Linked DNA regions of Homo sapiens. The protein of the gene in region 4 interacts with the protein of the main gene of each other region in a biochemical or structural test. Each region holds a gene or a part of one and is shown on either strand. Other genes may lie near its edges. The genes, in order: CEACAM1, NEDD9, STAT5B, PTPN11, STAT5A, ALK and FRS2.

The links.
Region 1: the proteins of PTPN11 (region 4) and CEACAM1 form a complex in vitro, tested with the Homo sapiens proteins (one study listed by BioGRID).
Region 2: of the proteins of PTPN11 (region 4) and NEDD9, one has a biochemical effect on the other in vitro, tested with the Homo sapiens proteins (one study listed by BioGRID).
Region 3: the proteins of PTPN11 (region 4) and STAT5B form a complex in vitro, tested with the Homo sapiens proteins (one study listed by BioGRID).
Region 5: the proteins of PTPN11 (region 4) and STAT5A form a complex in vitro, tested with the Homo sapiens proteins (one study listed by BioGRID).
Region 6: the proteins of PTPN11 (region 4) and ALK form a complex in vitro, tested with the Homo sapiens proteins (one study listed by BioGRID).
Region 7: the proteins of PTPN11 (region 4) and FRS2 interact in a test that uses a peptide from one of them, tested with the Homo sapiens proteins (2 studies listed by BioGRID, with this or other methods).

What each region holds. Positions count from the first base shown.
Region 1 is NC_000019.10:42,525,682-42,529,732, forward strand, and holds the start of CEACAM1 (cell adhesion molecule CEACAM1 isoform 1 precursor), read right to left. Parts: upstream 2,801-4,051; 5' UTR 2,694-2,800; coding exon 2,630-2,693; intron 1,720-2,629; coding exon 1,360-1,719; intron 189-1,359; exon of another isoform or gene 1-188.
Region 2 is NC_000006.12:11,187,669-11,191,168, forward strand, and holds part of NEDD9 (enhancer of filamentation 1), read right to left. Parts: coding exon 2,296-3,500; intron 640-2,295; coding exon 550-639; intron 1-549. UniProt on the Homo sapiens protein: Scaffolding protein which plays a central coordinating role for tyrosine-kinase-based signaling related to cell adhesion. As a focal adhesion protein, plays a role in embryonic fibroblast migration.
Region 3 is NC_000017.11:42,273,592-42,277,594, forward strand, and holds the start of STAT5B (signal transducer and activator of transcription 5B), read right to left. Parts: upstream 2,801-4,003; 5' UTR 2,657-2,800; intron 2,043-2,656; exon of another isoform or gene 1-2,042. UniProt on the Homo sapiens protein: Carries out a dual function: signal transduction and activation of transcription. Mediates cellular responses to the cytokine KITLG/SCF and other growth factors. Binds to the GAS element and activates PRL-induced transcription.
Region 4 is NC_000012.12:112,417,707-112,421,746, reverse strand, and holds the start of PTPN11 (tyrosine-protein phosphatase non-receptor type 11), read right to left. Parts: upstream 2,801-4,040; 5' UTR 2,636-2,800; coding exon 2,622-2,635; intron 1-2,621. UniProt on the Homo sapiens protein: Acts downstream of various receptor and cytoplasmic protein tyrosine kinases to participate in the signal transduction from the cell surface to the nucleus. Positively regulates MAPK signal transduction pathway. Dephosphorylates GAB1, ARHGAP35 and EGFR.
Region 5 is NC_000017.11:42,301,998-42,305,497, reverse strand, and holds part of STAT5A (signal transducer and activator of transcription 5A), read right to left. Parts: intron 1,157-3,500; coding exon 1,069-1,156; intron 969-1,068; coding exon 846-968; intron 1-845. UniProt on the Homo sapiens protein: Carries out a dual function: signal transduction and activation of transcription. Mediates cellular responses to the cytokine KITLG/SCF and other growth factors. Mediates cellular responses to ERBB4.
Region 6 is NC_000002.12:29,225,587-29,229,086, forward strand, and holds part of ALK (ALK tyrosine kinase receptor isoform 1 precursor), read right to left. Parts: intron 3,481-3,500; coding exon 3,298-3,480; intron 2,087-3,297; coding exon 1,988-2,086; intron 1,489-1,987; coding exon 1,336-1,488; intron 1-1,335. UniProt on the Homo sapiens protein: Neuronal receptor tyrosine kinase that is essentially and transiently expressed in specific regions of the central and peripheral nervous systems and plays an important role in the genesis and differentiation of the nervous system.
Region 7 is NC_000012.12:69,567,888-69,571,387, reverse strand, and holds part of FRS2 (fibroblast growth factor receptor substrate 2), read right to left. Parts: intron 2,384-3,500; 5' UTR 2,358-2,383; coding exon 2,292-2,357; intron 1,058-2,291; coding exon 871-1,057; intron 113-870; coding exon 1-112. UniProt on the Homo sapiens protein: Adapter protein that links activated FGR and NGF receptors to downstream signaling pathways.

The DNA.
Region 1 (4,051 bases), on a different chromosome or scaffold from region 4:
GGGGTCCACAGATGCCAAATAAGGCCCCTGGAGTAGAGGAGAGGTTAAGACTGTGGCTGAAGACAAATCTCCTGTAACTGATCTTCCAGTTACGGTCTGTGTGACCTTGATATAGTGACTGTATTTATTGCCATGTGGCTCAGTTTCCCCTCAGTGAAATAGTATAAATGGTTAATGGTTTTGGCTTATCTTGTGGTCTGTGAATTAACCTTAAAATATTTATAATTATTTGACCTCAGCTCTGCATAGGGGAGCTGCCCAAATAAACAATCTTATTTTATTTTATTTTTTTGAGATGGAGTCTCGCTCTGTCACCCAGGCTAGGGTGCAGTGGTGTGATCTTGGCTCACTGCAACCTCTGCCTCCCAGGTTCAAGCAATTCTCCTGCCTCAGCCTCCTGAGTAGCTGGGATTACAGGCACGCACCACCATGCCCGGCTAATTTTTTTGTATTTTTAGTAGAGACGGCATTTCACCATGTTGGTCAGGCTGGTCTTGAACTCCTGACCTCATAGTCCATCCACCTCGGCCTCCCAAAGTACTGGGATTACAGGCGTGAGCCACCGCTCCCGGCCGCAGCATCTATTGTTGTTGGATTCCCTGAGAGTGCCTCTCAGCCTGATCCCTGGTGGACAAGGAGCTTTCAGGAGCATCCTGTCTCCTCTGTTCCTCCTCCTGGGGATGGTAAACTTCCTATGGCATCTCCTAAGCCCCCAGGGCAGTTGGCTGATGGCCTGGGGAGCTTGTCCATCTGTCCTCTCCAGGCTGAGACTAAGGTGAAGGATGAGGCTCCATCCTTGCCCAAATGAGGCTCTAGTGCCTGAACCCTGGCTGGTTACCAGCTCCAGGAGCCACAGCCCTCGGATAGCTCAAATTCTTGTTCCTAGTCAGCCCTGCCCAGGAGGCCACAATCTAGCCCTGGCCCAGGCTCCTCAGGGTCACCAGGAGTTGAGAACCTTGGGATAGTGTTTTGGAGCAGGGGATTCCCAGGGCTGAGCTTGTCTGTGAGGATCCCAGAAGGCCCTTCAGGCCAGACCCTGACTGAGTCCTACTGGGTCTTTCTTAGGGACATGTTCACCAGGAGGGTCCCGGGGGGCTAGATTGAGACTGGTCTCCCCTCGATAAGTTACCCACATCAGATTGTCCTTCCTCTGAAGCAAATGTCTGCAGGATCAGGACTCCAGAGTAAGACATTCGGTATTTTGATGTCTGTCCCATAGTGTGTCCTGCACTAGATGCTCAAACCTTAACATGGGGTATAATGCAGAGGAGGACACAGGCACAGCCCAGGCCTGACAATCCCATGTGTGGGAAGTAGAACTAACCCCCCAACACCCAGAGGTCATGGGGAAATACTCACGGTATACATGGAACTGTCCAGTTGCTTCTTCATTCACAAGATCTGACTTTATGACTTGTAGGGTGTAGAATCCTGTGTCATTCTGGGTGACGTTCTGGATCAGCAGGGATGCATTGGGGTATATTGTCTCTCGACCGCTGTTTGCGGGCCCTGGGGTAGCTTGTTGAGTTCCTATTGCATATCCTACAATTTGACGGTTGCCATCCACTCTTTCCCCTTTGTACCAGCTGTAGCCAAAAAGTTGCTGGGGCAGATTGTGGACAAGGAGAAGAACCTCCTTCCCCTCTGCAACATTGAATGGCATGGATTCAGTAGTGAGCTGGGCAGTGGTGGGCGGGTTCCAGAAGGTTAGAAGTGAGGCTAGGAGAGAGGAGAGAGCATCAGTCAATATTGGGACCTATGCATTAGGGTAGAAAAATGGGGCCTTGGGTCCTGAGCAGGTGTCTTCACCCCTCCACCTTGGAGTGTGTGTGTGTGTGTGTGTGTGTGTGTGTGTGTGTGTGTGTGTCCTACTGGGTCAAGGTCAGCAGTGTGACTCCCATTCCCTTAGTGCCTCTGACCTTGTCATTTCTCTGGAATGCCCTTCCCCAGGGATCCGCATGGCTCCCTCCCCACTGCCCTCAGATCTTGATCACATCAGGGTGCTCTTGGGAGATCCTTTCCCTGACACCTCCCCTAGAGACCCTGGGTATTCCCTTTCTGACCTTTTTCTGCTCTGTTCCCTCCAGGGCTCTTGTCAACACCTGACCTCACATTCTAGATCTCTTTGCTTGTCTGTCTTCCCCACCCATGAGAGCGTGAGCTCCGTGAGGGCAGGGATTTGTGTGATGTTGGTTGCACCCCAGTGCCTGGGATAGGCTGCAGACTCCTGTGGATGAGTTAGTGAGCATTCCCAGGGCTCTTCATGTCCTGGGGTTTATTTGCCAATATCTGAGGTTGGTGGCTCAGGGCTCTGTTTAATGCCCCTTTTAAAATGTTTTCCTTAATTGTCACGCTGACTTAAATTGTGATTATTGTCAGCAGTTTTTGAAATTTATTGCTCATTGATGATTCAGTTGGAAAAGGTAAAAAATGGGAGATTGTTTATTCACTAACAGTTTCAGATCACTGAGACTTTCCTTTTATGATCTCTATCCCTTTCATGTCCTCTCTCCTATTTGGCTCCAAGAGAAGCCCTCTGTCCCCTCTTAGAGCTCCATCCTCCCCAGAGGACCCTAGCCATTCTCTGTGCGCCCTCTTTCCGCCCCTTCCCAGGGTGTCCTCCCCTCACCTGTGAGCAGAAGCCCCTGCCAGGGTACACGCACTCTGTGAAGTGGGGCTGAGAGGTGCCCCATGGTGTCTCCTGCTGGCCCTGTCTTCACCTGTGGAGGAGAGCTTGGGCTCCAGGAACGCTTCGAGCACGGCTGCTCTGTCACCTCTGCTGTTTTCCACTCTCTGTGCTGAGCCTCCTCCCTGGGGCCCAGAGCTTTGTCTGATCATGTGTGCTGGGGCGGGGTTTGTCCAGGAAGCTCTGTTTCCTCTCCTCTCATTCCTACCTTTGTCCTTACTTTCTCTTTCCTTTCTGTCTACATTTTGGTTTCCCAGACCACACTTTGAGAATCAAGGCTGATGAGACCTCTGTCCCCATCAGGGGAGGAGGATCCCCCCTCTCCAGCACTGACCTCTATTGTGTCCTGGCTATGGGTCTGTCAGCAGCACACAGAGAACCCTGGCATATCCAAATGTGGTAATTATTTTCTTTGCAACACAGTGAGCTGCCAGGTCTCCCCATGCTCTTCAGTGTGCTGGGAAGGTAGGAAGACACCCAGCAGGAAGGTGACAGAGGTGGCTCTGGGGGATGGAAAGGGGCTCACTGGGGGATGACTGGGGAGGGACCAGCCCTCTGTCTCTAGTGTCACCAGCCTGGCCTCTAACCCAGGGACAGAGACCCAAGTCCAGGGGTCTCAGGTGGAGCTGCAGCTCCCGGATATGGAGGGGGAGGTGTCCTGTGTGTCCTGGGAAGAGAGGACTGTGATAGAGGGAGGTGGGTGGCTCTGGGCTCTACTGTCCTTGGGGAAGACTTCAGGGGGACCCTCCCTCCCTTGAGCTGAGGCTCAAGGCCTGTCCATGTTCTCCCTGACCATCCTGGGTGGTCTCTGTCCTCTGCGAGGCTGATTGTCCTGTGGTCACCGCACCTTCCCCACAGGTGGTGCCAGGAGGGAATGGGGAGCTGCACAGGGACCCCTCACAGAACAGGGTCCTCAGAGGACCCAGGAAGGGACAGAGCAGGTACATGGGAGGGCCTGGAAGGGTGTTTTGGAGCAAGGGATGGAAAGTGGGCTCTACCTTCACCTCCTTAGCAAAGCCAGGTTCATGACCAGGGGAATGTTTCCTGAGTGTTGTCTGTGTGCAATGTCTCCCCCTGGAGGGCAAGACAAGGCCTGCAGCCTTGTCAAGGGCTGCCCCAGGGATGCTGACCAGGGTCTACATGATGTGAGCTGGCCCTGACCCCTGGGCAGATGTGGGCTCTGACCTCCAGGCTTCAAGGTCAAGTCACCCCAGGTCCTGTTCACTGCGGGTCCCCAGGCTGCCCAGCTCCATGCGGTGCAGGATGAGCCCAGGGAGAGGACGTGAGTTGTCCAGAGGACTTCTGTCAAGATTGGAGAGAACTGTCCACCAGGGGGATGGGCTGCCTTAGAAGGAGCCATCTGTC
Region 2 (3,500 bases), on a different chromosome or scaffold from region 4:
AGCCATCTATAGAAGTTCTGAGTGGCCATTTATGGGTTCTGCAAAGTTACAGGGGAGCCAAATGAGTAGATAATTAGAGAAAACCAGAAAATAGGTGAGAGTGAAGTAGACTGATAGAAAGAAGCAAAGGAACTACAAGAAGGAGAGATAATTTACAGTTCTAGTTCTCCCCAGACCTGGCTCTATCTTCACTTTCTGTTACTGAATTCCCCTACTGTGGCTTTACTATAAACCTGCTTGCTTAGGCTAGCTTGAATGGGTCTTGTTTCTTGAGACCAAATGCCTTAACCCAAATAGTCCTCATATGTTAGATATGCAGGTTTAGCCTTTAAAAAAATTGCCGTTTAGATGGAACCCAGGTACACCCAGTTGAACTAACAAGGTCATAAACCTTCTCTTTGCTTTTAAACCCCATTCCGTGCTTTGGAGCTGATTCCTGCCAGTGAGCTGGAAGAATCAAAATCATAATCTCTTGAAGTGATACCTTTCCTTAGTGCTAGGTGGGAAATCTTTCCAATGCCAAGCAGTTTTTGCTCTGATTGAACTTACCTGATGATGTTCCAGCTGCATCTTGTTCTGTTTCATGATATTCTCTTTTTCCAATAGCTCTTTCTGTTGCCTCTCAAACTCCTCCTTACCCTGTTAATTTTCAACATAAAGAACATATTATGTCATCACTGTGATTCACTTATGCTAACAATTTCATTGACGGATGAGTAAATACTCTTTATTTTCCACTGCCTTGGCAACATCTCAAATGCCCAGTGAGGCACTGTGAACCCTAGACGACAGGGGTGGCAGAAAAATAAAGCCCATTGCCATATAGGGTGCCAGCTTTCTGGGGCACCTTAAAATTTTCGGAGAGCTACTCATGATTCCCTTCAAATCTCATATATAATGTTCTTTTTATAGTCTCTGGGTTCTTTTCTCATAGATTATATGTGAACCTGTAAACCCCCAAATGCAGGTCTAAATGTGGTCCACCTCTCACTTCTAGTTCCCTCAAATCATCTATAGATTTCTGCTCCAAGGCAGTAGTTCCCACTGTGCAGGGTCAGACAACCAGTAAGATGAATGTTCAATGCCTCCATCCTCTCTCTCTCCACTTCCTTCCTCAGCATCAGGTGGGGCTCAGTTCTCCTTGCCACACTTTCTTGCGCTTGAGGGAATTTGGCATAATAGTTACGTAGTTCTCAGTATAATCTGTGACTCTCAGTCAAATTAAAAGAATGGCAGAATAAGATAGTAAGCCTAGTCCTAAACAATGGATCTTGGTAGATTTTTTTTTTTTTTTCTGAGACAGAGTCTCGCTCTGTCGCCCAGGCTGGAGTCCAGTGGCACGATCTTAGCTCACTGCAACCTCCGCCTCCCAGGTTCAAGTGATTCTTCTGCCTCGGCCTCCCAAGTAGCTGGGACTACAGGCGTGCATCACCATGCCTGGCTAATTTTCGTACTTTTAGTAGAGATGGGGTTTCACCATATTGGCCAGGCTGGTCTTGAACTCCTGACCTTGTGATCCACCTGCTTCAGCCTCCCAAAGTGCTGGGATTACAGGCGTGAGCCACTGCGCCCAGCCAGTAGAATGTTTTAATCCCTCAAAGTGGAAGGGAAAGCTGTCGGAATCCCAGGTCAACTTGGAGCTTGGTAGAATTCCCAATTGTAGGAGGCCAACTGTGACTATCCAATGTCCCATACACAGATTAAGCTCCTAGGACAGCTAGCTAATGCCCAGTGGTCCTCTAGGTAAGTCTGAGATGGGGCTAAGTTTTAAAGCAATTATACACACACATACACAGAGTAGGGCTAGCAGGGGCCTTAGAAATTCTCTGGTGCAAAGGTCTTCTATTCTTTTTCTTAATGACGAAAACTTTTTTTTCAAATAAAATATTGCATGGAACTATACATAAAACACAAATAGAAGTGGAGCTGGTATTATTATTAGAGGGCCTATTATCCTACTTGGTGAGTCTCCTCTTACCTGAGGTATATCAACGGGATCTAATCCAACCCCTTACCCCATTCATTTTGCAAATGAGGAAATTAAGGCCCAAGGAGGTTGAATAAGTTGGTCACACAGTAAACGTCAGAGAAAGGGCTAGATCTGAGTGAGTACTCAGGACTCTCAGCCCAGCGTTCTTACTACTCTACGACACTCCCTCCAATTTGTGAACCATGTAGATTAACATTAATTATGTTCTCTCCTTTGGCAGTCCAACCCGACATCCTTATAGGCATCTTTCTCAGGCTCCCTGCATGTGAGTGAGTGTAGGTGTTTTATGAGTTCCGCTGTTTTACCTGTAGGTGGACGTAATCGTAGTCATCCATCCAGCTCCTCTCAGAACCATCACTGCTGCTACAGTCAGGGGCCTGCTCCTTGCTCAGGCCTGGGGGCAGTGCCTTGTTGTGGGCCTGGGCCTTGTGGTCACCAGGATGCAGCAGCTGTCCCTGGGAGCCACCGTGTGGGTACTCCGTTGAGTTCATGATGCTCTCCGGCCCATTCTTCAGATGCAAGCTGCCAGGGCCGGGTCTGAAGAGGGCCTCTGCGTTGGTGTTGATGGTTGTGGTGAGCTGCTTGGCGTCATCGGGCACCGTCTTTGCCACCATCACAAACCGGTCCAGATCGTCACACTTGTTCTGGGGCTTGTTGATGGCCAAGATATTCAGGGACCAGCTGCACTCATTTAAGTCATGGCTGGTTTGACTCAGGATCTGGTGGGAGTCTTCAACTCGTTGCAGCTCCCGCTTCATCTTGTTGTGGAGGATGAGTTCCGGGAGGCAGGCAGCATTTGCAACAGCTCCCTTGACAAAGTGGAGGTACTCCTTCAGGAACAGCTCCACCTTGTCCACTGCTGTGCGTATTTCATTGATGTGTCTTTCCATATATCCGTAACACCGCCAGTCGGTAGTGACCAGTGCCATTAGGCTGGAGACACCCATCTCAAGGGCCTGCTGGAGCCGCTGAAGTCTCTCAATAGCTGTGTCTGGATCCAGGAAGAGCCTTTTGTCCTGAGCTGGGGAGGCTGACAGTGAGGACTCCTTGGAGGAGGTGGAAGACGTGGACATGTTACTCCGGGTGCTGCCTGTACTGGAGAAAGACAATCGGTTGATCCCATCCACCAAGTCCCGAGAGCCTTTAGCATCTGGCGGGTTATGCAGAGGGACATCATAAACACCATCCCTTTCCTGGGGGTTTGCTTTCTCACTGGTTTCTGCTGGTGGCTCAAGAAACTGAACGCCTCGGGGGACATCATATGCGTCGTTCTGAGAGCCCACTGACTGTCCGAGTTGCGGGGGTGGGTGATTCGGGGACAGGCTCTGGTGCCTTCGAGCCACCGGTTCTGCAGCTCCTGGAATGTCACAGTTGTATTTTACATGAAGGTCCTTCCCTGCTGGCTTGGTGCAGGTTGGAGGAATGTCATAAACCCCCTCCGGTCTGAGGTCCGGCCTTCCAGCTTGTCTCATGGGAGGGGGGAAGTCATAGTCTTTTTCCCTAAGCCCTG
Region 3 (4,003 bases), on a different chromosome or scaffold from region 4:
TCTGTGAATAACTTTATGAGATACAGACATTTTTGTAGGGCACGAAAATAGTTAGGCTTCCTTCGATTCCACCTGTAACCTGCATCTAATCTTGAGCATGTTATTTACCTATCTATAACGTCTTCCTTTTACAATAAGACTACCTGTGTCACCTACCTACATAACAACAAGCCAAATAAACCACAACAAATGGATTCATAATATATAAGCCTAACAAAAATTACAGACAATTTGAATACTAACAATACTATGATTTGAAAAAACTCGACTTAAGTATCAAAAAGTAATAAATGGCAACTTTAGTCTTGATGTGGCTTTTACATATGTAAATGACATAAAAACAATCAAGAGAGGAAGAAAATGGAGATGAGATGAAAAGTCAGAGCAGGATAGGAAGTGTTGACCAAAATATTTATGTTGTAACACTCCAAACGATGATAGCACATTTTTCTCCTACAATCATACATACTATGAAGTACACACCTTAAATTTCTGAACACAATCCATATTAATATCCCGTGGGCAAAAAATACAAGCACCGAAAAGGTGAGAACTGATGAGAAGGTGGGATAGTTTACCTAGTTGGGTATATAGCAAAGATTATTTTGTGCAGAGTTTAGCTTCAAGTTATGCAATAACCAAACTACTGGTGATAGAAATCAACTTTTTTTTTCTGATGGTTTGCTTTACAAAAAAAAAAAAAAAAAAAAAAAAAACCTCTCCATTCCTTCCCTGTGTCTCAATCTGGAGCTTGAAATTTCATCTTCCAGAGGCTACAGTAGCAAACAAGTCATCTCCTAGATAACGCGCTTACCTGACCCAAGGTGTGGACTTGTTTGAATTAAACGTAACAGATACCACAAATTGTCACATAGGAAGTTTTTCTTAAAATCAGCAGCCCCTTCTCTTATTTAGCCATGTCCATTCTAACAACTGTGATCTTCCATGAGATGGAAACTGGTACCCAAATGAATAAACAAAACAACCCAAAGCCTTAAAATAAAATCAATCAATAAGATTCTCCCCATTTGAAGTGATCAGAACCACTCCAATATTTACAGTGTTACAAAATGAAATTTTAAAACATGAAAGGCACACTCAATAAAATACATCCTCACCTAGGAACTCACAGGCAATGAACATAACGCAATATAACATAAGCAAATGGACAACAATAGAATGTTGGGGAGAGAGGCACAGTTCTATTACCTTAATTGAAAGATAACAAAATTATTTGAAATAATGTAGACCCAACAGCTGAAAGCTTATTATGGCCCAGGCGGCTATCCAACAGCTTTGGAAACCTAAGATCCAAGCAGACCATAAACACCACTTGAAGACTGAAAAAAATGACATAAGCCCAAGTATGATATTCAGTGTCACGCTGGCCCTTTCAAAGGGCATTCCCTGAGGACACTGCAGAGAAAATGTATGGAATTGTATCTAGGCAAAGATCTGTATACTGCACGATGCTTTGGGAAGAGCACGAATCTCAGAGTCCTTGAAGTTTCAATCCCTGGATACTCAACAAACAGCCGTGTCACCTGAGCAGGCCACTTACTCCACCTATCTGGGCCTCAGTTTCCTCATTTGTACAATAAAAGAATGGCATCATCGCTGGGTTCCTTTCCAGCTCTAACATTCTTTGACCCACTTTTGGCACTATTTATTTGATACGAGGTATGGCGGGATCACAGGGACCAAGAAGAAAAGAACTGACTCTGGCTCTTTGGCAAAGAGAGAATCGGTATCTCTTTTAGTCTTTAAAATTCTTGTGCTTTTCATTAATCCCGTCTTTCTAAAAGCTGACACTTGGTTTTCTTCTTTGGCTTTTCCATCACTGCTGGCTACAAGTGTTTGCAACCGCCTCTTGCTCCGTGTGAGTTCTTTCCTCTTTGTTCACCCCGACCATCTTGCCAGATTCCTTTAGCCTCAGACCAGCTTTTGTGATACAACTCCCCTTCCGACTCTCCATATCTACCCCCCGACACCAGGAGCACTTTTAACCCTTTATCCCTGACTAGAAAGAAAAAGCACACTGCATCCCACGGCCACACGCACGAGCCCAGGCCTGGCGGGTCCTGATGTGGGATCCCGCCCCCCAGAGTCTTATCGAAACGTTCGTATTTGTTGTCTTGATTCCTTATAAGGCCCTGTTTCTTGAAGCTTTGCTAATACCCCCCACCGCACCAGGCACCCCCGCAGGCTCATCCCATCCCCGGAGTCCCGGGAACCTCTTTTGAAAGAAAGAAGTTAAAGCAAGGAAGACGGCTGGGGATATTCGGAATTGCAACGTGAAGGTGTGAGGCGGCTGACAGCAGCCCCCTGAGCTCCTATGGGGTCGGCGCGGGGTCCCCACACACCCACTCAGCACACGCGCACGCAGCCTTTAAAGCGCACGCCCCCCGCGGCGCCGCGGCGTTCGCAAGTCCCCCTCGCGCACCCCGCATTGCCCTCAGCCTCCCCGGCAGCCAACCCGGACCCCCTCTCCCCGCGCGCGCCCCTCGCCCAGCGCGCAACCACCGCGGCCCGGGAGTGATGGCGGCGGCGCGGCCCTGACGGGCGGCTGAGCGGCTGGAGCGCGGGCCCCGCCCGGGCTGGCTCCCCGGCCTGGCTCCCCCGGCCCCGGGCCCAGGGCTCGCCCCGCAGCTCCTACCTCGCTCGGCCCCTCGGGCGCCCGCGGCTGCTCCGGCCCAGCTGTCTGGCTTGCCCGCCCGCCCGCTCGCTCCCTCCCTCGGCCGGGCCGCCGCGCGGAGTTGCCTGCGCTGGGTCCCCGCCCGGGGTGACGGCTCCGGCCGCCGACTCTCCTCCCGCCGGGGCCCGCGGGGGCGCGCGCGCCGCTCACGCGCGGAGGCCCAGGGACGCGCGCCGCTGGCAACCCGGAGCGCGCCCCGCTTCCTGGTTCCGCCCGGCGCGCGCTCGCTAGCCCGCTGTCCCTCGCGCCCCCTCCGCGACCGCCCTTGAAGGACCCGGACCCCCTCGGCACACCCGAGGTGGCGGCGCGCTCGGCGGTGCCGGTGCCGGCGCCGCGCGCACCCCCTTTCTGCGGCGGTGGGGTGTCTTCCCGGCTCGGCTCCCTAGCCGACGCCGCACCGCAAGCACATGCTGCTTTGTTTGGGTTGGGTCGACCACCACTAGCAGGGCTAGGGCGCACTGTCGTGGTCGTTTTGGTTGGCCCCCTCCGCGGCCCGCCCACCTCTCTCCCTGGGAGCCCAGGCCCGCGTTCCGGGTCCTCTCCCGCCGAGGCCGAGGTCAGAAGTCCACAGGGGCCCCGATCAATAATTATCCTGGGTTTGCCCCCGGGAGGGCGTCTCAGCCAGGGCTCCTGCCGCCTGCATGGGCACGGCAGGAATTCACATTCGCCCAGGCCGAATTCACCTGTCCGAGTTCCAGGGTGAACCTACGGGGGACGGGGCGCCTGGGGCCGGTTCCCTTCCTGGGAAAATCTGGCTGGCTCCCACCAGTCAGAGCTGCGGGAGGGACTGCTCTCTCTAGAGAAGAAAGAATAAACAGGGTCATCTGTAGGATCCAGGGGAAGGGGGTCCCCCAGATCCTTTCCACGTGCTGAGGAGGGGGTTGCGGTTGTGGGAAGCCAGGCTGAGTCACCCACTCTCCTTTCCTCTGCTACGTCTATCTCCCGGAGCTGGCCAGCGGTTTCCCTGGCAACCCTCCAAGGGCTAGCACTAAAGCAAGACATAGGAAAGCTCCAGAAGCCAAGCTGCAGGGGCCAAAAGAGAGAGAAGGACCCCTCCCGCCCCCACTCAGACACACAGAGCTCCCCTGTGTGTATGCAAAACGTTCATGTCCAGAGATGGCCCAGAGCTGCAAGTTCTCCCATAGTCCTCCCTGGGCAGCTCTTTCCAGCGGCCTTCTCTTCACCTCCAGAATGACACCAGCCACAAAGGTCTCCAGCTGGTCAAAAAACCCTTCTCCGCTACCCAGGCCACTGCTGCAGTCCCATACTCTGGGCCAACACCTGGCACAGTGCTTTGCACAGAGTAGG
Region 4 (4,040 bases):
CTGAGGAGGGGGGATGGATTGAGCCTAGGAAAACAAGGCTGCAGTGATTGCACCACTGCACTCCAGCCTGGGCAACAAAGTGAGACCCTATCTCAAAAAAACACAATAATAACAATAATAATAAAATTCTAGGGCTGGGCAGGGTGTCTCATGCCTATAATCCCAACACTTCAGGAGGCCAAGGTGAGAGGATCACTTGAACCCAGGAGTTTGAGACTGCCCTGGGCAACACAGTGAGACCCCATCTCTATTCAAACAATTTTAAAATTTTTAAAAATAAAATTCTAGGAAATGCAAACTAATACATAGTGACAGAAAGCAGAATAGTGGCTGCCTAAGAACAAAGGAAGGATTATAAAGAACATAAGGCAAAATTACCAGGGGTGATAGATGTGTTCATTATCTTGACTATGGTGGTGGTTTCCCAAGTGTATATGTATGTCAAAACTGATCAAATTGTACATTTAAATATATGCAATTAATTGCATGTCATTTATACCTCATTAAGGCTGGTTAACAAATAAAACAGGCTTATAATCCAAAAAATAATGAATCATTCAAAATTATGTGTATTATGTTCATAACCCGGCTTTTTGGGTGGTGCATAATACCAGGGCTGGAGGGGAGAAGGAATTACTCCATTTCAAACTGTCATCTTTACCACTTGCTACTTTGACTATGCCCACACTTCTATGCTTCTAAATGAACAAACTGGACAATGTAGGGTCTATTACTACCCAGACCTTTTCCCAACCCCCAGCCCCGTCTGATGTCTCCTAAAGCAGCAGATCCTTACTTGTCTGGAAGAGCAGACACCAGGAACAAAAGGCTCAATGACTATTTGACAGATTAAAGAATAGACAACTGTTTATTTAAAAGCTCCCTAAAGAATTAGAACATTTGAGGCTATACACTGTTCTGTTGAAATGCAGTTATATATTACCCAGATCTGTAAGCACTTGCCAACCGACCTGTCCAAGTCACTCACTTCCTACGAGTTCTCAGTTTTCTTTTTCTCCCCTTTTTAAATTCCAGATCCATGTATGAATAACATGCCAGGTGTGTTTGGAGGAGACATTCCTAATATTTTGAAAAATCTCATTCAGGCTGGGTACGGTGGCTCACGCCTGTAATTCCAGCACTTTGGGAGGCCAAGGCGGGCGGATCACGAGGTCAGGAGTTTGAGACCAGCCTGGCCAACATAGTGAAACCCTGTCTCTACTAAAAATACAAAAATTAGCCGGGCATAGTGGTGCGCCTGTAGTCCTAGTTACTTGGGAGGCTGAGGCAGGAGAATCGCTTGAACCTAGGAGGCGGAGATTGTGGTGAGCCGAGATTGCGCCACTGCACTCCAGCCTGGGCAACAGAGTGAGCCTCCGTCTCCAAAAAAAAAAAGAAAAAAAGAAAAGAAAATCTCATTCAAATAGCCTCAATAGCTTGAATCGTTTTTTAAATGTCTGAGACAGTGACCATAATTGAACAATCATGGAAAAGAATAGACAATGGGTCTTAAGTGTGAGTGGTATATAGAGTGACTATACAAAATAGCAGGATCACTATCTGAAAACAACAGGTCACACTACTGTTTGACAACAAAATTAAGGCTTACAAATGGTTAGCAATAGTTACAAAATAATAGAAGCAACATAGTGATTAAAAGTAGGGATTCTGTCTCCACCACCTACTAGCTGTGAGGTTAGGCAATTTACTTAACCTCTGAAACTCGGTTTACTCATCTTTACAATGGGGATAATAGTAGCCATCTGATAGGGCTGTGGTCAGAACTAAGCAAATGTTAGCTATTAGTAGTAGTATTACCCTGACCTTTCAAAGGATCTCATTAACTCACTAATCCTCCTAAGTTTCAAATCTTGTCATTTACTAGCATGTTGCTTCTGGGCCTCGGTTTCCTCATCCATAAAACGGGTACCAGTAAAGTGACCTGACTGTTAAGGTTGCAGTGAAGGATTAAATAACGAGATGCGGCTCCCTTCCTTTCCATCTCCCAAAGCGAAGATCGCAGAGGAAGGAAATACTTCTAGTGGCTGCAGATACAGTCAGTTTTTCCATTTCTGGCACGTGAGGGGTAGGAGGAAAAGAAGACACAAAGAGGCATATAAAAGGGTCAGGGGTCCTGCGTGAAGTCCCCAAATGCACGAAAGTGGCACAGTGAGCCAGAACGACTAGACCACTGGGGGCCCGGCCCCGCGCAACTCCCCTCTCGTGTCCCAAGGAGCCTCCCCAAGTGAGCAGGGTTATTTCGGAATCACCATGAGGCAATTCTCATGAGGCAATGGGTCAGGAATGCGGCGCTGAGCCTGGCCGCTGGCACCCGTGGTTCCCTCGGCGGCTCTACCTGCCCCGGGCCTGACGGGCATCCCCGGGGCTGCCGCAGCCGGAACTCGGGGAGGCAGGAAATGAATGGGGACCCGAGGGGTGGGGGCGCGGTGGGGCCGGCCCCCGGCCCCTGGAGGGCGAGGGGACGAGGAGGGAACCGGCCCCCAACCCCGACCCGGGGCGGGAGCCCGAAGCCCGGCCGGGGCGCCCCCTTCCGGACGGGGCTAACCGAACGCGGCGGTGGCCGGGCCGAGGCCCGCGCCGGGCCCCTCGGGGCTCCTCACCTCCGCGATGTCATGTTCCTCCCGCCCTCCGGCTCCGCGACGGACCCGCTCCTTGCTCAGGCTCCGCTGGGCTCGGTCACATCGGGCTGGCCCGAGGGAGGCCCGCTCGGGACCGGACGCGGGGCAGAGCCAGCCGGCCGCGCACAGACCCCCCTCCAGGCCTGGGGATCCCGGAGACTGTGCAGCTGCCCCCCGGCCCGGCTCGCTCCTCCTCCGCCCCCGCCCTTCGCCGCCGTCGCCCCCGTGATGTCACCGCTCGCGACGCCCGCCGCCACTTCCTGCTTCCCGTCAGCGGAGGACCGAGCGACGGCCGGGAATGGCAGCGCGGGGGCTCCGCGGAGGCGCCACGCACAGTGTCCAAAGCATCCTTGCTTCCTCCTGGAAACCGCGGCCGCCAGGTGTGAGCTGCGCGCTCCGCGTCTACGCCACCGACCCGTCCGGGCCCGCTGCCACATCGATTTCATTCATTTCGTTCCACAAATCGCCGCTCCACTCATTAGCTGTGGAACCTTGGGGAAATTACCTACTGTCTCCGAGCCTCGGTTTCCTCCATTCTTTTCTTTCTGTAAGATAAAGATAGTAGGCTGGGCGCGGTGGTTCACGCCCGTAATCCCAACACTTTGGGAGGCTGCGGCAAGAGGTTCGCTTAAGCCAAGGAGTTCGAGGCCAGCCTGGGCAAAAAAGCAAGACCTCATCTCTACAAAAAATGCAAAAAACTAACCGGGCGTGGAGGCTGCGGCGGGAAGATAACTTAAGCCCGAGAAGTCGGGGCTGCAGTGAGTCGTGATCACGCCACTGCACTACACCCTGAGCGACAGGGCAAGACACTGCCTAAAAAAATAATAATAGGCTGGGCGCGGTGGCTCACGCCTGTAATCCCAGCACTTTGGGAGGCCGAGGTGGGCGGATCACGAGGTCAAGAGATCGAGACCATCCTGGCCAACATGGTGAAACCCCGTCTCCACTAAAAATTCAAGAATTAGCCTGGCGTGGTGGGGGGCGCCTGTAGTCCCAGCTGCTTGGGAGTCTGAAGCAGGAGAATCGCTTGAACCCGGGAGGCAGAGGTTGCATTGAGCCGAGATCGCGCCACTGCACTCCAGCCTGGCAATAGAGCGAGACTCCGTCTCAAAATAATAATAATAATTACAATAAATACTACTTTGGGGTGGGAGCGGTGGCACACGCCTGAAATCCCAGCACTTCCCTTTGGGAGGCTGAGGCGGGCGAATCGCTTGAGTCCAGGAGTTGGGAACCAGCCCGGGCAAAATAGTGAAATCCCATCTCTACAAAAAATACAAAAATTAGCCGGGCGTGGTGGCGCGCGCCTGTAGTCCCAGCTACTCGGGAGGCTGAGGTGAGAGGATTGCTTGAGCCTGGAAGGTCGAGGCTGCTGAAAGCCGAGATCGCGCCACTGCACTC
Region 5 (3,500 bases), on a different chromosome or scaffold from region 4:
GGAGTTTCACTCTTGTTGCCCAGGCTGGAGTGCAATGGTGCAATCTCGGCTCACCACAACCTCTGCCTCCCGGGTTCAAGCGATTCTCCTGCCTCAGCTTCCCAAGTAGCTGGGATTACAGGCATGTGTCACCACACCTGGCTAATTTTGTATTTTTAGTAGAGACGGGGTTTCTCCATGTTGGTCAGGTTGATCTCGAACCCCTGACCTCAGGTGATCCACCCTCCTTGGCCTCCCAAAGTGCTGGGATTACAGGCAAGACCCACCACCCATGGCCGCAATCTGCTTTATTTTCTTCGAGACAGGGTCTCGCTCGGTCGCCCAGACTGGAGGGCAGTGGTGCAATCACAGCTCACTGCAGCCTTGACCTCCTGGGCTCAAGTGATCCTCCTGCCTCAGCCTCCAGAATAGCTGGGACTACAGGTGCAGGCCACCATGCCCAACTTTTTTCTTTTTTTTGTAGATACGGGTTCTCACTATGCTGCCCAGGCTAGTCTTGAACTCCTGGACTCAAGCAGTCCTCCCTCTTCTGCCTCCCAAAATGCTGGAATTACAGGTGAGAGCCACCACACCTGGTCCCAACCCACTTTCCTCACCCACAGTTCCAAACACAAGCCCCTCCCAGCAAAATGTAGGCACAAGCAAACAAACAAAAACTACAACCGACTTCTTCTTAGCCCATTGCCTAAATTGTCTGGGTTAGTCCCAGATTATAACCTATCAAACAGGGACCCACAGAGTCAAAGCAGGCTGTCCGATGGCATTGCTGCCAGGAGTCCTGAGGCAGGCCCCTCCACCTCTTGGGTGACCTGGAGCAGTGGGGGCAGGAGGGCTGGGGGTCTCACCTTCACCTGGAACACAAGCTCATTGCTGCCAACACTGAACTGAGACTCAAACAGGACTGTGAACTTCTCCTCTGTCACGGACTCTGCACCCCGCCGGTCAGCACGCTTGATCCTCTTCAGTGACTGCAGGGTGGGAGGTGACAGGGGAACAGGGAGATGGCGGCTGCTTACAAGGACTCAGCTCTGGGCAGACCTGCCCTCCGAGGGTGGGCCCCGTCCTCACCATGTTCCTGAAGTGGGCACTGAGGGTGCCCGTGGCTTGGTGGTACTCCATCACGCAGCAGTTGTTCAGGATCTCACCACTGCACTCGCTGCAAAGGAGAGGGGGGTCCCAGCTCCACATGGGCCCCAGGCCAGGAGCATGGTCCTGTCCACACCTCGGGCTGGGGTCTTCGCTCAGGTCAGCCCTGCCAGCAGCCCCTGCCCCGTATCCCCTAAGAGTGTTTCTTGGCGTCTTTCTGGGTTACTGACTTCTCCATCAACCTGGTGCCCAGCACCCAAGGCAAGGTCTCCAGTGGTGAGGTCTGGATCTATCATTAGAAATTCCTCGATACCAAGATTGATGTGAGGGCTTTGGGGACTTCCAATAGCTTCTAATGCACTTAAGATAAAAATCACAACCACAGTCTCTGAGGATCCCTATGGTCAACACCTACCCACCCCCCTGGCCTCACTGAATTCCTCTCCCCTCACTCAGGACATGCAAGCCCCGTTGGCCCTGGCTGTCTGCTGAACATGCCAGGCTTGGACATTGGCCCTTGCTCTTCCTGTCACCCCAAACACTCTTAGCCTTCTCCTCCTTCAGGTCTCAGCCCAGATAGCTCCCCAGAAAGGCCTTCCTGGACCACTTATCTGGAGAAGCTTACCAAGCTGACCTTTCCTCACCCCCGCCTTAAACACATCTCCAACGCTAGCAGATTGCTCTTTTTTCTTTTTTTTTTTGAGACAGAGCTTTGCTCTTTTTGCCCAGGCTGGAGTGCGATGGTGCAATCTCAGCTCACCACAACCTCCACCTCCCAGGTTCAAGTGATTCCACTGCCTTAGCCTCCCAAGTAGCTGGGACTACAGGCGCACACAACCATACCTGGCTAATTTTTGTATTTTTAGTAGAGATTGGATTTTGCCATGTTACTCAGGCTGGTTTCGAACTCCTGATCTCAAACGATCCTTCCACCTCAGCCTCTCAAAGTGCTGGGATTACAGGCGTGAGCCACTGTGCCCAGCCTAGATTGCTCTGTCTTAACTTCTTTTCCAGTGTCTATCACTGGTTGGCCCTGCCTGATCTTTTAAAGTGTATTATCATCAGTCTCCCCAGCTGCAATGCAAGCTCAAAGGCAGTGAGAAGGTCATTTGTCTTCATCTTCACCCCAGATCACATGGTAGGAAATCAGTAAACTTTTTTTTTTGAAACAGAGTCTTGCTTTTGTTGCCCAGGCTGGAGTGCAATGGCACAGTCTCGGCTCACTGCAACCTCCACCTCCTGGGTTTGAGGAATTCTCCTGCCTCAGCCTCCTGAGTAGCTGGGATTACAGGCTTCCACCACCATGCCCAGCTAATTTTTGTATTTTTAGTAGAGACGGGGTTTCACCATGTTGGCCAGGCTGGTCTCGAACTCCTGACCTCATGATCCGCCCGCTTGGGCCTCCCAAAGTGCTGGAATTACAGGCGTGAGCCACTGTGCCTGGCCTTTTTTTTTTTTTTAAACAGAGTCTTGCTCTGTCATAGGCTGGAGTGCAGTGGCACAATCTTGGCTCACTGCCACGTCCACCTCCGGGTTCAAGTGATTTTCTTGCCTCAGAGTAGTTGGTAGTTAGGACTAGAGGTCCAAGTAGCTGGAGCTACAGGTGTACGTTACCAAGCCTGGCTAATTTTTGTATTTTTAGTAGAGACAGGGTTTCACCATGGTGGCCAGGCTGGTCTCGAACTCCTGGCCTCAAGTGATCTGCCTGCCTCTACCTCCCAAAGTGCTGGGATTACAGGCGTGAGCCACCTCGCCCAGCCTCAGTAAACATTTTTAATTGGATGACAAGGGATGGGGCCATGTCTTCCACATCACTCATTCACTCATTTATTCATCCCCTGCATACGCTGTGGGTGGCCTGCCCTGACACTGGACACTACTTCTCCACTCTCTGCTACACATAATGTCTCTGTACTCTTCCCTCAGGATGTGGCACATGGGCTCTGCCTGAAAGTCCTCCCTCTCTGCTACTTCCCTCCCTATCACTAGCTACCTCCAATTCCACCAGGAGCCTAAGACTGTCATTTCTTTAATCCTGCAAGAAGACCCCCTTTCTCGGTGCCCTACACATCCCCCTGCCACATGGCTACACCATCAGGCATTTCCCAGCATCTGCTGCCTGCTCTGCTGCTCAAGGGGCTGGGCGAGAAGACAGCCCAGTTCTGTTGGGATCACAGTTTTGTCCTCAGTGCGTAGCACAGGTTCTAGAACACAGCTACAACACCATACTTTGTGTGATTTTTTTGGAGACAGGGTCTCACCCTGTTGCCCAGGGTAGAGTGCCATGGCACAATCATACCTCACTGTAGTATCAAATTCCTAGGCTCAAATGATCCTACCACCTCAGCTTCCCGAGTAGCTGGGACTACAAGTGCGTGCACCACCATGCCCAGCTAATTTTAAAACTTTTTGTA
Region 6 (3,500 bases), on a different chromosome or scaffold from region 4:
GGTATTGACAACCACACCAGGTCTCCTTTGAGTTGGTCCCAAGTCAGAAATAACCTCCCCCACTGAGACAAAAACTACTTGCTCCTTCCCATCGCTGGAGACCTTGTCACACTTTTCTTTTCAGGGGACCATGAGCAGGACCAGACTCATCCCGATTTGACAGGCTTTTAGCAGTAGCTTTTGGGTGAAGGGAAATTTAACAGGGATGAATATCAGTGGCGGGATGTTGGTTTGAAACATGAGCTGCACAACTATGGGGTGAGGATGGAAGGTGAAACGAAAGTGGATCTGGAAGAGATGTGGGGGCCGCAGGTGACCAAACAACAGGGTGCGCTGTAAGTAACACCCTCTGAGGCTAAGTTACTTCCTTGTGGCCCTGAGGCACTGGGCTCACAGTGGGGAGGGGTCCTGTGCCCTCTGCTGGCCAGACCACACGGAGGTATCGTGCTTGGTACTGGACACTACATTTCAAAAGGGACATCGATAGTGGAACACATGCAGAAGAGGGACACTGGTGGGGCGGGGGAAGAGACACAAAACTGCATCTTGTATGAACTGCTGCAAACAAATGGGTTATTTAGTCTGAAGAAGAGTTAAAGGAGGAGGATGGGGCCAGGTGCGGTGGCTCACACCTGTAATCCCAGCACTTTGGGAGGCCGAGGCGGGTGAATCACCTGAGGTCAGGAGTTTGAGACCAGCCTGGCCAAAAGGTGAAACCCTGTCTCTACTGAAAATATGAAAATTAGCCTGGCATGGTGGTGGGCGCCTGTAGTCCCAGCTACTCAGGAGGCTGAGGCAGAAGAATTGTTTGAACCTGGGAAGCGGAGGTTGCAGTGAGCCGAGACCACACCATTGCATTCCAGCCTGGGCAACAACAGTGAAACTCCGCCTCAAAAAAAAAAAAAAAAAAAAAAAAGAGGAGGAGAATGGGAGCACTGTCTTCAAACACTGCACATGCACAGCTGCTGCTGTAAGGAAACCTAGGAGAGGAAGGTTAAGGCAACAGGTCCCCAGCTCTGAAACTGCCCAAGGGAACAGAGAACCTTAGGAGCAGTAAGATCCCTGTCACTGGGCATGTTTAAGTGGAGGCAGGATGGCCCCTTGGTGGGGGTGGTAGAGGGCTTATTCTATAGTAGAGGATTTTTAAGACTCCTTCAGGAGCCATGACCCACCTTTCACACAGTGGTCAGAGCACTCGAGCTGTGGCAGGTAGGGGAGGGACAGAAAGTTTACAAAACCGAATCCAGGGTGTTCTGGAACCCAGAAACCATTTGTGGTCATGGGCCAAATCTCAGGCTATGGGCCCCTCTGCCTCCCCTGGCCCTGCCCCCTTACCAATGCAGGAGACGCCATCCTCAGCCAGCACCGTCCCGTGGTCACAGAAGCAGATGACCTTGTGGCTTTCAGGGTCCATGTGACATTCGTCTACCTCACAGTGACTGCAGTTTAGATAATGCTTAATATTCACTTCCCCGTGGCCTTCCATCACTAGTGACAAGGAGGGAGGGTCAGTCTTGGGCCGAGCCTGCCTCCCCACTCCCAGCCTCAGTACTATGTCTCCAGGTGGTCACTGTGGGTGCTCTGGTGGTCCCTGTTCCTAGGTCCCATAGCCACTGGAAGCACAACTGTGTAGAAGAGTCTTCCTGTGCATATAGAGAGTGCAGCGGAGGCAGCGGGCATGGGTGTCTATGGATGTTTGCTTTTGAGTCAGTGGTGGAGAGAAGCCCACGCACATGATCTTTAGGTTGGCTGGTGCAGGTATTGGGCTATTACTGTTACATTTCCTAGGATTCTGCCTCTGCATTCATATTAAAGCACACATCCTGACTTCTGGAAAATGTGGTGACCTGCGCCATAGGAAGCTTGCCTGCCAGGGACCCATAATTGTGCCTCTGTATCCTGGATACAGGTCAGAGACTCTGAGGTTTTAGCTTGGTGGGAGGACTGACCTAAGCAAGTTTGTTCTGCTGCCTGGCAGAGAAGCTACCTTTTAAAGCTGGGGTGTACAGGATGCCCAGTGGACTGATGAAGGAAACCCCATCTTCCCCATCCATTTCGGGGTCATTGTTTGAGGCTGCATTGCCGCCTGAGTAGCAAACCAGAGCAGAGTTTAACATGGGGGGTGGGTGCCAAAATCTTAACACACACACACGTCAGTGGGGCATGCAGCTCTGGCCAAAGTTAGGGGGTCACTGGGGACCTCAGGGGCAGGGATGCGGGGAGGGAAGGGAGGCTCAGGGCACAGAGGCTGCATGTGGGATTTGGCTCAGTAGATGCTGGGTGTGTGGCTAATTTCCCCTCAGGTCCAGGCCAGCTCCCACTCTGCCGGTGGCCCACTAAGAAGTGGTTAATGTGAGCAAGAGTCCAAAAAGTTCTAGTCTTTCCAGGCTGGGATATGCCCATGGTGCCTCTCCCAGGACTGGTCAGGATGGTAGCACTGAAGAGTTGCTCTTCAGCCCCATTGGGTCAGGGTTGGGGTGTGGCGGGCTGTGCGGATTGCGGGAAATGAGCCCCTGTGCCCTGAGGCTCCCGTCCCTCCTTTCATCTGGGGCTGGGCTATCTTTGGGCTCCCCCCTCGGGCTCCTCCCACCCACCCAGCTTGGAAAAGAAGAGCATGTGGTTAACACAAGCATCTTACACACAGCGTCAATGCAAAACACAGACACGAACACCACAGAGCATGCATGCATTCGTCCTAATCTGTGGGGAGCGGGGAGCCATCGTCTCCCAGCCTCTCAGCTTCAGAAGGCTCTGCTGACTGTGCTCTGAAGCCCAGACGAGGCAGCTGGGGTCAATGGGCAGCTGCTTGCTGAAGGGCTGGGCTAAGCCTGCCTGCAGTTGCCCTCGGGAATAGCTCCCATCAGCAGGCACAGCGGCGCCTTTCAGGAAGCTGGTGGGCTGAGGTAGGGAGCAGGAGTAAGGAGTCCATGAAACCACAAACCAGCCCCTTCAGGAGCTGGCTTGGCCAGGCCATCCAAGGGAGGCTGGGGGAGTCCTTATGGGTGACTCAGAGACTAGTCTGGCAAGCCAAAGCCTCTTTATCATCGACTTTGGGGGACATCAAGAATCACATGGGATCTTGATGCTGTCGCTGAGGAAGCCTGGAGGCAGGGTGCTGGCTCGAAAGCCAGCACCCTGCCTCTGGCTGGTCCAGGCAGGTCGAGAGGGAGGCGTGCAGTCACATCACAGTCCACACTTGGGCAGGCCAGGGGAGGGCAGGGGAGGGCAGGGCAGGGAGGTGAGGAGCCTAGGACTAAGCAGGGAGGGAGTGACACCTTGAACACGAATCATCTTTACCTATATATCCTCCGCCTCCTCCACCTGAGGAGCACCCCCCTCCACCCCCTCCGAAACCCCCTCTTGTCTCCCACCCCCACTTCTTCATGGCCTGGGGGCAGGAATGTCCTCCGGTGGCACCCTCCTGCAAAGATTTTCCGGCCCAGAGCAAGGAAGTGTTATCATTCCAGCCACCTCCACCACCTGCGGGAAGAGATAGGGAA
Region 7 (3,500 bases), about 43 Mb from region 4:
TTATTTCTTTCTACAACTGGCTCTTCCACCACATTTATACTATTATTTTGCATAATCTCTTGCAACATGTTAAATAATTCTTCTGCACGGGCACACTTAAAGGCAAAGATTCCTACAAATATAAACCAAAAGGGAAAAATAGTTAACATACCTTTAAAAAAAACTATAGGAACACTTGACAAACAGCAGAATTGTAAAGTAAGCATTCTACGCACCGAGTCAGAAATCCCTTTTAAATAAATATCTGATAAATTAATGATTATTCTCTGTTTCAAAACAAACCCCCGCCAAAAGTTCACAGAATAATTTTCATTCATCTAAGGGAGATGGCCCAAAATAAAGCTAATGAAATCAAGACCTGCGCACTTACGCTAGTCTGTTTCTTAACAGCAGGGGGAGCCCAACTCACTATTCCAAGGTGATCATTTGCCATGTAACAGGCCCCTTGGAAAGTCCCTAGGTGTTTTCCAATTGTTATCTTGTTTAATTATTACAATAATTAAAAGATAGGTATTACCATTTCCCTTTTATAGAGAAGAAATTTAACATTCAATGGAAGTCCTGTAACTTGTCAAGGCCATTCAAGTAGTAGGTAGTAAAAAAATCAATGATAAAGACACTTAGTCAATTTAGCTGACCCAATCATTTACTGAAAAATCTTAAAGTTGACATGAGCCAAAATTTCTCACATAGACAATGTGCTTAATAAACAGTTGATAAATTAATACACAGTATACTATATCTTTCCTTAACAATCTGTTTATTTTGGGATTTTTTTCAGAAGAAAAATATTAATTTAATCTTTGTATACAGAATAGCTGAAAAAACAATTTCAAATACAATATTTGGGAAAAAAAACAAAGGTTCTACCTTGTCCAGTTTGACACCTTCGACCACTTTCAAAAGAAAAGAGATTCGAGTCATAGCCATAGCGTCGCAGGCAGAGGTAGTGCCATTTTACTGAGTCACGTTTGCGGGTGTATAAAATCAGTTCTGTGTCTGTAAGTTCCATTATGCCAGAACCTAACTCATTCCCATCATCATCCACATTAATGACCTAAAAAAAGAAGGTGACAGTCATGCAAATATGTCACCAATTCGTCAGGAAAATGCATTGTTGCTAATTAGTTATTTGTAATTTGTTAGTTCATTCATCAACCAATGTGTGTATCAGGCATGGACTACGTAGCCGTGTAACACCCAGTTCAGATCTGTAAGAAATTTACATTCCCACTGGGGAAACAAAATGTAGAAACACAAAGTCAATACCACAAAAGTGTATGATTAATTGACAAAGGAATGCAACAGAGGCTGCAGAAGGCAGGAAGTGTGGTCTAAGGTTGTTGAGACACCTTCATTTAAGAGGAGGAGGGCCTTTAGCTGGACCGCTAGTATAAATAAATTTACGCAGAAAATAAAATCAGAGGGGAAATCTAGTGGGTCAGGAGATAAAGGGACATCATAAAGACACAATGTTAAAGCAGAACAAAAAAAGTACCTTTCAAAGACACCAAAATAGATTGGCACAGAGTTCATATGAGGAAAGGCTTTGTACTGCTGAGCTTCAGAAAACATCCAAAGACTAAGAGCAGTAGGTAACATTTAGGGAGAAGTTACTATTCCCCTGGGAGTAGGAAAAGAGCTTTACATGTATTTAACCCTCATAACAATCCTAGACTACACTGTACAAAAATGGAATTAAGACTCAGTAATAACGTAACCTGCCCAAGGTCACAAAGCTTATAAAGTGACAGACTTACACCTAGGTTTGTGTGATCAAGGCTATTCTTTGTAACAGATCGAGGTCAAATTATCAGACACAAAACAGCTATAGCAGCATTTAGCCTACAGGTAAAATAACACCACACAATTTTAGCAAAGAGGTTAGTGAATGATGAGAGAAGAAGATTAATTTGATGGTGACTACAGGATGAATCAGAGGGTGACTTGAGGTAGAGTCCAGTTAAGAAATCACACAGGCACACATGAAAATAATAACTGAAAGACAGATAGTGATGAGATTGAAAAGGCACCCCGTAAAATGGCATTTTAAAAACAGTATTACCAGAACGGTATGGCTAATTAGATACAGAGGACCGAAGGAAAACTAAAAAAAATTCCATACTGTAAGAAAATGTTGTCATCATTTATTAAATCAAGAAAGACAGGGTGGAAAGAAAGGGAAATAGAAAGGTTTGGTGATAAAAGCCAGAAATAAGATATGTTAAGTGAAATAAAAGAAGAACACCCAACTAGGCAGTAAGATATATAACTCAACCAGTTTTACTGACCTTAAACTTGTTCCGATGGTTATCTGGGACAGTGTCTTTATCTGGACAGCTACAACAGCTACCCATGGCTTCTTCAGAAGACCATGTGTGCACTACATGAAAAATAATTTGGAAAAATTTATTAGATGAAGGATACAAAAACTGTAAACAGAAAAAGACTTTAGAAATCATCTAACACAAACATTATTCTGATGCAGAAAATTAAGTCCAACAAGGTATATGGCTGCAGCTAGATTTTATACAACTAGCTAGTTGATTTTACTCAGTAATAATGAGAATAAATTTTGTGAGGCATTAATAATGTCAAACAAATCTCAAATTTCTAGTTAAATTTGCAAAGGTCACCTATTCTAAAATCATCTAAAAAAAAAACCAACTTAAGGTCTCATATATAATATTACCTAAATAATTAATTTTTGTTCAAGAGTTAATAATGAAATTAACCCTTTGTGGCTTATCAGGAATTTCATGTCCTTCTTTAAAGAGAGAGAGAGAGACAGAGAGGGACAGAGAGAGAGAGACAGAGAGAGAGAGAGAGAGACAGCCAGAGACACAGAGACAGGCAGGCAGGCAGGCAGGCAGGCAGACATTATGTTGCCCAAGGCTGGGCTCAAACTCCTGGGCTCAAGTGATCCTCCTGCCTCAGCCTCCTGAGTAGCTGGGACTACAGGACTACCAGACCTGGCTTGTTCTTTAAATAAAAAATCACCAAAGGGATGGTGAACTTCTGGCTTGGCAGGTATTTTGACTGTTGTTACTCATTGTAGTATCTTTTATGTCTCCACAAGACAAGAGTTCATTGGTAATTAAAACAAAATCAAATTTCGAATAGCGCATTGGTAAGAGAGAAAGACAACTCAAAATTAAGCAGTAAAGTAACACACAGAATACTGGCAAAACTGATATAGCATGTCTATTTAATACTCCTTTCCCATAGAAGGTTAGAGGTAAGTGGTTATATACCTGACATTGAGTGTTTAAGAACACTCCAACTGAGCAGACAAAGAAAACTCCAAAGCATCACTTACAAACAAGGGAAATAATCAGATAGAATATGACAATATATGAAAAAGGAGGAGGGAAGGAAGCACAGAAGCTACAAAACATTACAAACATAAATTTGATTGAAGCTTGTTGAAAATTATTCAGTGGCTCTCCACTATCTTCAGTTTAACAGTATAAACTCTTCAGTATGATAGATCCGATCAG